Homo sapiens: one gene and its partners. The protein of the gene in region 1 interacts with the protein of each later gene in a pairwise test. Each region holds a gene or a part of one and is shown on either strand. Other genes may lie near its edges. The genes, in order: PRMT2, SHTN1 and DAZAP1.

Evidence for each region.
Region 2: the proteins of PRMT2 (region 1) and SHTN1 interact in a two-hybrid assay, tested with the Homo sapiens proteins (one large-scale study listed by BioGRID and IntAct).
Region 3: the proteins of PRMT2 (region 1) and DAZAP1 interact in a two-hybrid assay, tested with the Homo sapiens proteins (one large-scale study listed by BioGRID and IntAct).

Annotation. Positions count from the first base shown.
Region 1 is NC_000021.9:46,642,072-46,645,723, reverse strand, and holds part of PRMT2 (protein arginine N-methyltransferase 2), read right to left. Parts: intron 2,190-3,652; coding exon 2,085-2,189; intron 1,419-2,084; coding exon 1,236-1,418; intron 1-1,235. UniProt on the Homo sapiens protein: Arginine methyltransferase that methylates the guanidino nitrogens of arginyl residues in proteins such as STAT3, FBL, histone H4. Acts as a coactivator (with NCOA2) of the androgen receptor (AR)-mediated transactivation.
Region 2 is NC_000010.11:116,928,642-116,932,293, reverse strand, and holds part of SHTN1 (shootin-1), read left to right. Parts: intron 1-2,291; coding exon 2,292-2,445; intron 2,446-3,652. UniProt on the Homo sapiens protein: Involved in the generation of internal asymmetric signals required for neuronal polarization and neurite outgrowth.
Region 3 is NC_000019.10:1,424,564-1,428,215, reverse strand, and holds part of DAZAP1 (DAZ-associated protein 1), read right to left. Parts: intron 2,339-3,652; coding exon 2,256-2,338; coding exon of another isoform or gene 2,255-2,255; intron 1-2,254. UniProt on the Homo sapiens protein: RNA-binding protein, which may be required during spermatogenesis.

The DNA of each region.
Region 1 (3,652 bases):
AACAAAAACAAACAAAAAACCTTCTAATATGGCCTCTTAACTTTATATAATTGAGTCAAACGTTATAGATTCTTTGCCCTATTCCTTCTTTCAACTAACATCATTTTTATAACATTCATCCTGCAAGTAACTGTTTTCATCTAGTTTTAAAATGTAACCAGAGATTGTTGCCTGGACCATCGGGTTATAGGCATTTCTCCATGGTGGGGAAAAAATTTCGGTAAGCTATTTAGAAGCTGGGCTTTTATTATTTTTTTAGGGACAGAGTCTGGTTCAATCACCCAGGCTGGAGTGCAGTAGCGCAATCATAGCTCACCACAGACTTGAACTCCTGGCTTCAAGTGATGCTCTGACCTCAGCTTCCCAAAGTCCTGTGATTACAGGCATGAGCCACCACACCTGACCTAAGTAGTATTATTCATAGATTTATAGAATTTTTTCTATTTTTTTTTTTTTTGAGACAGGCTCTCGCTCTGTAGCCCAGGCTGAAGTGCAACAGCGCCATCATGGCTCACTGCAGCCTTGGCCTCCAAGGCTTGAGCAATCCTCCCACTTCAGCCTCTCGAGTAGCTGGGACTACAGGCGTGCACCACCATGCCCAGCTAATTATATTTTTTTTTAATTTTTTTTTTGTAGAGACGAATTATATTTTTTATTTTTTCTCACTATGTTGTCAGGCTGGTCTTGAACACTTGGTCTCAAGCCAAGTGTCCTCTTGCCTTGGCCTCCCAAAGTGTAGGGATTACAGGTGTCAGCCACCACACTCAGCCTAATTTCATTTTTAAAGTAAAATTTACTGCTTTTTTTTTAAATACTGAGGGAGCACGCACATAATCTCATTGCTCAAATCATATCTCTAAGCCAGGGGTCGGCAAACTAAGCCATGGGCCAAATCTAGCCCACCACCTGTTTTTGGATGGCCTCCAAACTAACAGTGGGTTTTACATTTTTAAATGATTTTTTTAAATCAAAAGAAAATACTTTGTGACACATGAAAACTGTACAGTATAAATTCAAATTTCAAGATCCATAAATAAAGTTTTATTGGAACACAACAGTGCACACTTTGTGTGTCATCCACAGTGGCTTCCACACAACCATGTCAGAGCTGAGTGGCTACAACAGAGGAGCTCTGGCCTGTAAGACTATGGGCCTGCTCTGAACGTTGCAGTAGAACTAAAGCTAGAGAGAACCCACCGCCTGGCCAGCTGAACAGGGAATTTAGAAAGCAATACCAGAGTTCCATAGCTGCCGAAGTACTCTTCATCCTGCCACGTGTCCTCGGGGTCGTACTCATCCACGTGCTTCCCCACATGGTTTGCCGGAATGTACCCACAGCAGCCCGCACGCTCACCCCACCACCAATCTGCAGTGGTTTGTCTCAGGATAAGAATTTTTTCTCCTCTCAAAAAACTGAGCTGGAAAAAAAAAAGTTAAAATTCAATAAGAAAACCAGTCATTGGTATTTCAAATGTGGCTCAGTGATAAATCCCATCAATGGTGACAAAATCACAGAGATTTCAAACAGGAGTCAGTGGGTAATGACAGCAACTGAGAATGTTTGCAAGTGACACCATGACTTAGCGATGCCTCTGGAACATCTACCTGAAAGGAGGGCACAGCTTAACAGATATTTTTTAAAAGAAGGAGTAAACATTTTCAAATGGCTTAGGAGAGAATTTCTCAACAGCCTCTTCATTGTAACTCAACTATGCCAACTGAGTTACTGGAGGCTGACTCTAAGAAATTCCTGTCACAAAGTAAACAAAGCTATGTCCAAGCAGATATAGCTTGATATATTTGGTAGCCTTACTTTTCATTAACTGGGTGGGTTCTACATTCCAAGTAGAAACCAGAACAGGTGCTTCTGCCCCTGGCTGAGGGTCCCCACTCCATGCCTCGTATCTTTACATCATGCTTGAGGCAGAACTGGCTGGGCTGTGAGCTTCACACACAGGTCTTGTGTGGCCCTACGCATCTGAATACCTCTTCATTTAACTTTGGTGTGACGTCTGCAAAATTTATCTCCTTTTGACACTGAACATGCTGAAAGCCATAAAGCATTAACCACCACGTGTGGCTACCTGGGTCTCATCGGTGGCAGCGTAGTCCGCGATGGCCACAAACTCCTCTGGCTGTACTCCCTCCTGCAGGAGACCGGCCTCACTGCACTCAGCAGGCTCTTCTCCCTGCTCAAAGCCAAGGAAAGCGTGAGGAGAGGACGCTGGAGCTTTTTTTTTTTTTTTTTGGCTATATTATTAGGATGGTTTCAAATTTCAAATACAGATTCATGTGTCCAAGTATTTATTATACAAACTATTTGGATCATCTTTACTACTATAATCAAAGGCTGTCACCTTCACTCTACATTTCTTTTCTAAAAAAAAAAATTATCTGGACCCTAAAAGAGAACATCAAAGCAAGAAGTCAGAAACAGGCACCACTAGTGTCTATTTGGTGAGGAGCCCTTGTCCTTCATCAGCTTTGCTTCCTGAAGGTGATCATCAACCCCATGAAGAGAAACCAGTGTGAGGACAGAGCCAGGGGCCCAGCGCCCCAGGCAGGCACAGCCAGGGGCCTGTGGAAAGAGCTGATGGCATGGCACAAACCTCCACGAGGCAGCAGAGCCCAGCTTGGACCCACACAGGTCCTTGGAGCCTCCCCCAACCCCTCCATTTTTTTTTTTTTTTTTTTTTTGAGACAGAGTCTTGCTCTGTTGCCCAGGCTGGAGGGCAATGGCATGATCTCGGCTCAGGGCAACCTCTGCCGCCTCCCAGGTTCAAGTGATTCTGATGCCTCAGCCTCCCAAGTAGCTGGGACAACAGGTGTGCACCACTACACCCAGCTAATTTTTTGTATTTTTAGTAGAGATGGGGTTTCACCATGTTGCCCAGGTTGGCCTCGAAATCCTCAGCTCAGGCAATCCACCTGCCTCATCCTCCCAAAGTGCTAGGACTACAGGCATGAGCCACCATGCCTGGCCGTTCACTTTATATAAGAATAAGCTTGCCTGGAAGACATCACTGCAGGGGGCAGAACCTCAGATCACACACTCCAGTTCAATGAATCAACCTTGTCTCAATACATACATTTTAAACACATTTTCCTAAACATAAAAGTAATTCGTGTTTACTTTAGAAAATGTGTGAAAACACCAAGTACACAGAAGAAAATTAAAACCTCCTGTAATTTTGCTCACTGATCACAGATAATAACAGACAGCACATTGGTGTTTATACTTTCAGACTTTTAAAAAAGTGGACACGTAACATAAGTACAAAGCATTCACTGGGTTCACACAATAAGCCTGTGGCCTATGGTTTTCACTTTATAAACTCTGAACATTTTTCTTATTAAATATACTTCTAACACTATTTAATATCCAGTCTATGAATTATCAGGACTTACCTATCCAGTTTCCTAGTCTTGTACATTTAGACTTTTCAGTTTTTACTATTCTAAATCATGTTAAGATGAACTTCTTTCAACATAAATCATTCTGTATGTACCTTAATCTTCTTAGGGTAAGTCTCTGAATGTGAACCTGATGGACTGAGACTATGTGGCTTTTGGTTTTACCACCCAGTGCTCTCCAGAAAGGTGTTCCCTGGACCGCTTGCTGAGAGGGAACCACCAATCTTCCCACACTCTC
Region 2 (3,652 bases), on another chromosome or scaffold:
GCTCGTGCCTGCTGCTAACCTTCTGTGCAGCCTGGTTCCTAACAGGCCATGGACCAGTACCAGTCCAAGACCTGGGGGTTGGGGAACCCTGCTCTAGAGTATCAGTTATTTACTCGCATGATCATGTGACTGATTGGGAGCTGTGGCTGGCTGCCGCTGCAGAGGATTGTTGAGAGAGTATCTTATTACATATTGCGAGCCTGGGAAAAGATCAAAATCCAGAATTTGAAGTATGGTTTGTATTGAATGCATGTCGCTTTCACACCATTGTAAAGTCGAAAAACTATCTCAAACCATCCTAAATTGGGGACCATCTGTATGTCGCTTAAAATGTTTCTTAGCTGTCTGTAAGTTCCCTTGCAGATGCAGCAGTCTTTTAAGCACAGCATATGGTTTTTGCAATTATAAAAATAGCATATGCTCCTTATAATACATTTTTAAAATACAGCAAAAGTTAAAGAAGATTAACCAAGTATCCCATATTTTGGTGCATAGCTGAACTTTCTGTAAATATATACCTTTATAAATATAGTTTGTTTAAATTGAATCATACTATGCATACTATTTTATGCCTTGATTTTTTTTCCATTGGTAATATATCTTCTCATGTCAGTATATAGTAAGCTATGTGATTTAAAAGTTGCATAGTATTTCATTGAATAAACATGCTATAATTTATTAAACTAAAAATATTGGTGGACATTTAGGTTATTTGCAACTTTTTGCTGTTGTAAAGAATACTTCAGGCCAGGTGTGGTGGCTCACGCCTGTAATCTCAGCACCTTGGGAGGCCAAAGCAGGTGGATCACTTAAGGCCAGGAGTTCGAAACCAGCCTGGCCAATGTGGTGAAACCCTGTCTCTACTAAAAATACAAAAATTAGCCGGGTGTGGTGACATGTGCCTGTAGCCCCAGCTACTCAGGAGGCTGAAGCACAAGAATTGTTTGAACCCAGGAGGCGAAGTTTGCAGTGAGCCCAGATCGCGCCACTGCACTCCAGCCTGGCCGAAAGAGTGAGACTCTATCTCAGAACAAAAACAAAAACAAAAACGAAACAAAACAAAAAACCACTTCAGTGAATATATTTCAGAGTATTTTAAAAAATAATTTCTAAAAATGGTTTTACTGAATCGAAAGCCTTTCCTTTTTTTTTTTTTTTGAAGACTTTTGATACTTATTACTAAATTTGTGTCCCCCAGGAGTCTTTTAAAATATTACCTGAATTTTTCTTTTGAAAATGGGTACAAAAGTGACCCATGTTTAAAAATTAAAGTGTCTGTGTGACTAACAAGCATATAAAAAATGCTTAACATCACTAATCATTAGAGAAATGAAAATCAAAACCACAATGAGATACCATCTCATGTCAGTCAGAATAGCTGTTACTAAAAAGTCAAAAAATAGCAGATGTTGGCAAGGTTTCAGAGAAATGGGACGCTTAAACACTGCTGGTGGGAATGTAAGTTAGTTCAGCCATTATGGAAGGCAGTGTGGCGATTTCTCAAAGAACTTAACACAGAAATACCATTCAACCCAACAGTCCCATTATTGGATATATGCCCAAAGGAATATAAATCATTCTACCATAAAGACACGTGCACACATATTCATCGCAGCACTATATGCAACAGCAAAGTCATGGAGTCAACCTCAATGCCCATCCGTGGTAGACTGGATAAAGAAAATCTGGTACATATTACACCATGGAATACGGTGTAGCCATAAAAAGGAATGAGATAATGTCCTTTGTAGCAACATGAATGGAACTGGAGGCCATAATCCTAAGTGAACTAACATGGGAATAGAAAACCAAATGTTCTCACTTCTAAGTGGGAGCTAAGCATTGATTACACACGGACACAAAGAAGGGAACAACAGACACTGGGGCTTACTTGATGATGGAGGGTGGGAGGAGAGAGAGGATCGAAAAAGTATCTATCAGGTACTATTCTTTTTACCTTGGTGATGAAACAACCTGTACACCAAGCCCCTGTGACACACAATTTACCTATATAACAACCATGCACATGTACCCCGAACCTAAAATAAAACTTAAAAAAAATTAAAGTGTCTGGTACGTAACTCCCCAGTAAATTTATTTTAAATCAGCTCTTTAGCTGATTTATGATTGTGTGTTAATTGTATCTAGCATTTGCATGGTTGTTAAGATGGATTGGAATCTGTTTGCTATGAAGTACAGTCAAAGGGAAATATTTATTTTTTCCCTTTCTTTTCTTTGACAAAGGAAAAACTGTCAGCCATAAAAGTCTTTTTTTTTTAAATAACTTATAGGTCAAAGAATTAGAAGAGCAACTAGAAAATGAAACACTCCACAAAGAAATACACAACCTCAAACAGCAACTGGAGCTTCTAGAGGAAGATAAAAAGGAATTGGAATTGAAATATCAGAATTCTGAAGAGAAAGCCAGAAATTTAAAGCACTCTGGTAAAAGCATTGAGTAGGCTACTATGTCTTACTATTAATCTTTGAATTACTCATGCCTAGTACAAAACCTGGCATATAGTTAGTCTAGAACATTTACTGAATGCTGTGGAAAAATACCAAGATTTGTTTTGAAATTCCTTAATTTCTAACCATTGCAATTCAGTAGAATAGCTGCTGTATTAAATAATTCAAAAATATTTAGACTAATTTTTTGGACTTAGAGCCCTTGTGAACATCATATACAGAATTTAGACACAGAGATACCGTTAGCCTAGGAAGACCAACTTTTCAGCATTTTTCAGAGCTTCAGAGATGAATGTTCATTATGTACTTTATTTTGTTCACTTAGAGTGCATTTTTAGAAAGAATTAAACTTTTTAAAAATACTGTCTTCATCTTTGGTGTTCATACTACCTTCATCTTTGGTGTCTAATAATACACATGAAATAATACTTTCTATATTGTACCTAACAATGAACTGGGCAACAATATATCTATTAAATGGAAAATCTTTAGAAACACCAGGGGATACTTAAATCAAAAGATTTATTCATTCAGTTCTAGAAGGCTTAACGGGAATGTGCGAGTTAGATTACTATACGGGCATATGTGTAAGTCTCTGTTGGAAGGTCGGTAATTTAAGAAGTCAGGTACATTCCCTTTATAATAGCTTCAATATTCACTTCAGATATTTTTGGTTAATTTTATACTAGAATTTTGAAACCTATGCAGAAGAACCATGTAGGCCTTTTTTCCTTCTAAAAGCATTCAGTGCTTTCTAATCCACAATGAAAATTGATTATAATTTATTTTTTAATTGATCCAAAATTAAGAAGTATTTCATTCTTTTTAGTGAATATCAGAGTAGCCTGTAGCCAAAGCCATCTTTATTATGAATAGAGGAGGCAGACACTGGAAATATATAAGGTTCAAATCTGAATGCCTTCTATTAATACTTATTATCTGCTGTGTGTGTACCCAGCCCTATCCTAGGAAACAATAAGAAATACAGAAGAAAAGAAACCATGCTTTTTGTCTTCAGAGAACTCAGATTCCCCTTGGAGGGATAGGTGCATGCACATAAAAAGACTAGAGGATTCTCAGTTTTGGAGAGCATAGCCCACACTGCCTATTTAAGTGTTGAGGGTAAATACAAATGGACAGATCCCTGAGGGTACACTCAGTCGGGGAAAGTGGAATGGCTGTG
Region 3 (3,652 bases), on another chromosome or scaffold:
ACATGCAATAAAATGGACATTTGGATCAGTAAGCAATCTTCATACTGTGTTCGCTCAGCAGCCCGGGGCCCTTCCTCTCTAGACGTGTCAGGAGCCACAGTCTTCTCAGGAGGAGGGTGCGGGGCCGGGGACAATGGATGGAGCAGGCCTGACCTACTTATTCTAGGCGCAGTGGCTGACCTTCCTTTAATGCCTGCTTGAAAATATGGGTGGACTAACAACAGAAAGATCCCCCCAATTCCGGGGCTGCCTCAGCATTTGAGAATCCTGAATTTGTCTCACTTTTCTGATAAATCGTAATGAGAATAAAGAGACAATGGATCCACCTGGAGTCAGCCTTGGGGTCTCAGTCTGGAGAGCTGCACATCCTGAGTTCAGAATCCCTCAGTTCTGCCTGTTAGAGAACAGACAGCAGCAGCCACAGAGGCACAAAGCCCCCACCTGCCCAATGCCCCAAGGACCGGCCTATGATGGGAACAGGATCCGTTAGCTCAAGGCAATGTGACAGCAGGACCAAGGGACCCATTTCAAAGAACTCAAATGAGCGAGTCTTCACACACCCTCCTCAGGGGACTGCGGTTCCTGCTTACAAAGCAGAGCGGTCCTTGTACTTTAAAAAAACAAAAACAAAAAAAAATTCTTTCACCCTTTCCTACCTGAATGCAGCAATGCAGTCGCCTGGCATGGAGGGTTAACTACCACGCGGTACCAAACACTCCACAAACGGAAAACCCCCATGAGGGGCCGGCGGCGACGCCAAGTGCCGCTCCAGCCAACCAGTGAAGGCCGGCGCCGGGCAAGCTGGACTCCAACGACTGTCTGGCTTGGAAGGCGAGACCCACACTGAGGTCGCCCAGCTCAGGAGCTCGCGCAGAACAGTCATGGCTGGGGGGACCCAGGGGCTGCCCAGGGACGGCAGCAGGTGTGTGCACTGTACAGAGCTCTTTCTGCCCCGTATATCAAGACCACGCTTTCCCCAAATTGTCAGTGTCGTAGTCCCTTAAAACACTGGGCGCAGACTCCTTGAAGCCCTGCTTGTACTGTCGCGCACCCATGCAGCCGGCAGGCTCATTTTAAACCACAAGCTGCACTCGATGTCAGAACAAGGATTGTGTCTCCTGTTTTAGTTGGGTTCAAATGGAATTAATGAAGTCTGCAACCCAATCTAAGCCACGTGTATACAAAAATAACTACACATGCTACTGTTTTTAAAAAAGTTCTGCTATCAAGACCTCTGGCTGGGGTAGAGGGCAGGGGCAGGAGATAATGAGCACGATGCTCCCTCCAGGACATTTTAATTGAAAAAACAACCATGGCCCTGTCAGAGGGGCTAAGCGTCTTCTTCCGTTAACGGGAGAAGCTGCCGCACCAAGGAGGCCGGGTCAGAATCCCACTGGGCATGTGAGGCGGCCTGGCAGAGCCAGCAGAGCTCCTTGGTTTGAAAGGACCAAGACAGGAATCCTGCAAAAACCTGGACCCCTAAGCTTTTGCTAACTGCAAGAAATTCCACACTGTAGAATTTCTACCAGTTATTTATTTCAGAGTCCACTTCTCAAGAACCTCCAAGGGTCCAGGTAAAACAAGGATTTAGGGACCCCTTTCTGACACATGCCTTCCAAGGGCTGGCCTGGGGGTTGGGGGGGTGGCCTCCTGTCCCTCTCACCTCCGGGGGTAACACAGTATGAAGATGACACAACCAGAGGTCACTTGACTGCATGGTGGCTGAGTACTACCGAGAGCATGTGGCTGGTGCCGGAGTTCCACAGTAAGTGACCCAATTCAAACAACCAGTCCTTCATGATGTTTCCACTGTGCTTTCCATTTTAAGCGGAACCTCGGCTCTCAAAGGTCCCTTGCTGATCACATTACAGGTCAGTGTCAGACAATGGGGATTTGCAGACATCTGAAGGAGTGGTCGTGGAAACCAAGCCTGAGGCAACGCTGCGGTTTCACTGGAGCCAGCCCCAACACCGCCACAGCCTCCCAGCCCCAGCCCCCTACCCGCCCAGTCCCAGGTCACCCAGAGGGAGGGGCTCCAGGAGCAAAGCTGAGAGATCCCCACCCCGCAGGAAGGGTGCTGGGGAAGGATGGGACCCTCCTCACGTCTACAGACCCAGGCCCACCTCACGCAGCAAAGGTTCACAGGACGAACTCGCCCGACCCTTTCCGTGAAGGAATGTTCCTTTCCAGTGAAACCCCTAAGTTGCCTAAGACTTGGTTTGGTCTTAAGGTAAAATAAAACTACAACTACACACTTTTTTGCCCATGATGTCGTGAAAATGCATGTTGACAGCCTGGTCCACTGATTGTTCGTCCTCGAAAGTAATAAATCCAAAACCTAGCCAACGACGAAGAGTGAATCAAGGTAGCAGGGTGTTGTGACACAAAACAGGATGATGAACAGTATTAGGGACGGGCCGAGGGATCGACCTTGGGTTTCAGCTAAGCTGTGTGTGGGGCGCTGCGGGCCCCTGGGGCAGCTGCCTCCCTCCCCAGGAGCCACCACTCGACTGCACACGGAGTGGACAGACGGTGACGTCCGCACTCCCGGTGACGGCTCTGCTGACTGAGGCCTGAGTCAAGCCTCCGCCCCAGACACCCCGGGCTGGGGCTCCGTGTCACAAAGATTTGGAACAAGGAGCACATCTTATAAAACAGCAGCGGAGACAGGGGAACGGTGAGGGCCTCCATCGCTACTGGCAGACAAAGCGCCCCCCAGGGGAGGGTCAGAGGCCCGTGCTTGAATATTCTGGCTCTCGCCTGTGGGGAGATTGCCAGTGAACCCTGCAGGCCGGGGGCCCGCGTGGAATGCGCCATCTTAGTCAGGGGTGTGCACCGTGGATGTGTGTATGCTTCTCTGAAACCCAGGATTCTCCCCCTTGGCTTGCAATTTGCTTTGCAGCTAGTGCTGACAGCAGCCATATATCGTTCTAAAGCGTTAACAGATACAGTATCTATCATAGCTGGTGCCTCGCTAGGCTTACGCAACACCGTTGGGTAAGCCCAAGGAGTCCTAGAAGAGGTCATATCGTAGACATCTATGCATGTTCTATACAGGTAGAGAAACAATGCACAAAGATACAGGCCACAACGGGTTCCAGCAGGTCAGACTCTGCTGCCAGCAGCAAGAGCGAGATGCACCATGGGATCAAAACAGAAAATTTTAAAGGCAAAAAAAATTTAGCATTTCCCAAACACAAGAGTGGCAGTATAAACGAAGTTTAGTGGGTCTGGGGTGGGCGCGGCCCCCGGCTAACGGGGCGGGTCTCCTCCTCTAGGCGCAGGAGTGCGCCGGGCTCTCCAGGCCTCCCCGGCTAGGTGGAGCGTGACACCGCAAAGCACACCGTCCTCCCGAGGCGGGGCCCAGGCGGCACCAGCCCCTCCCCAGATGGAAGTGCCCGGCAGACAGCTGCCCAAGACCTCACAGAACAAAGATGGACATGGGAAGAGCTGAGACCGGGCTGAAGATGGGCTGCCCGCGCCAGAGGCACAGGGTGCGTGACAAGGCACCACACAGCAGGGGACAGCGCAGCACGGGCGTGAGGCGTGAACGAGCGCGGCAGAGAAGGGCCGTGGGGGGTGGGAACAGGCAACGGCCCCCGGAAGGAGCAGCCTACTGTGGGGCCTCTCAAGCTGAAGAGACAGGGGCCAG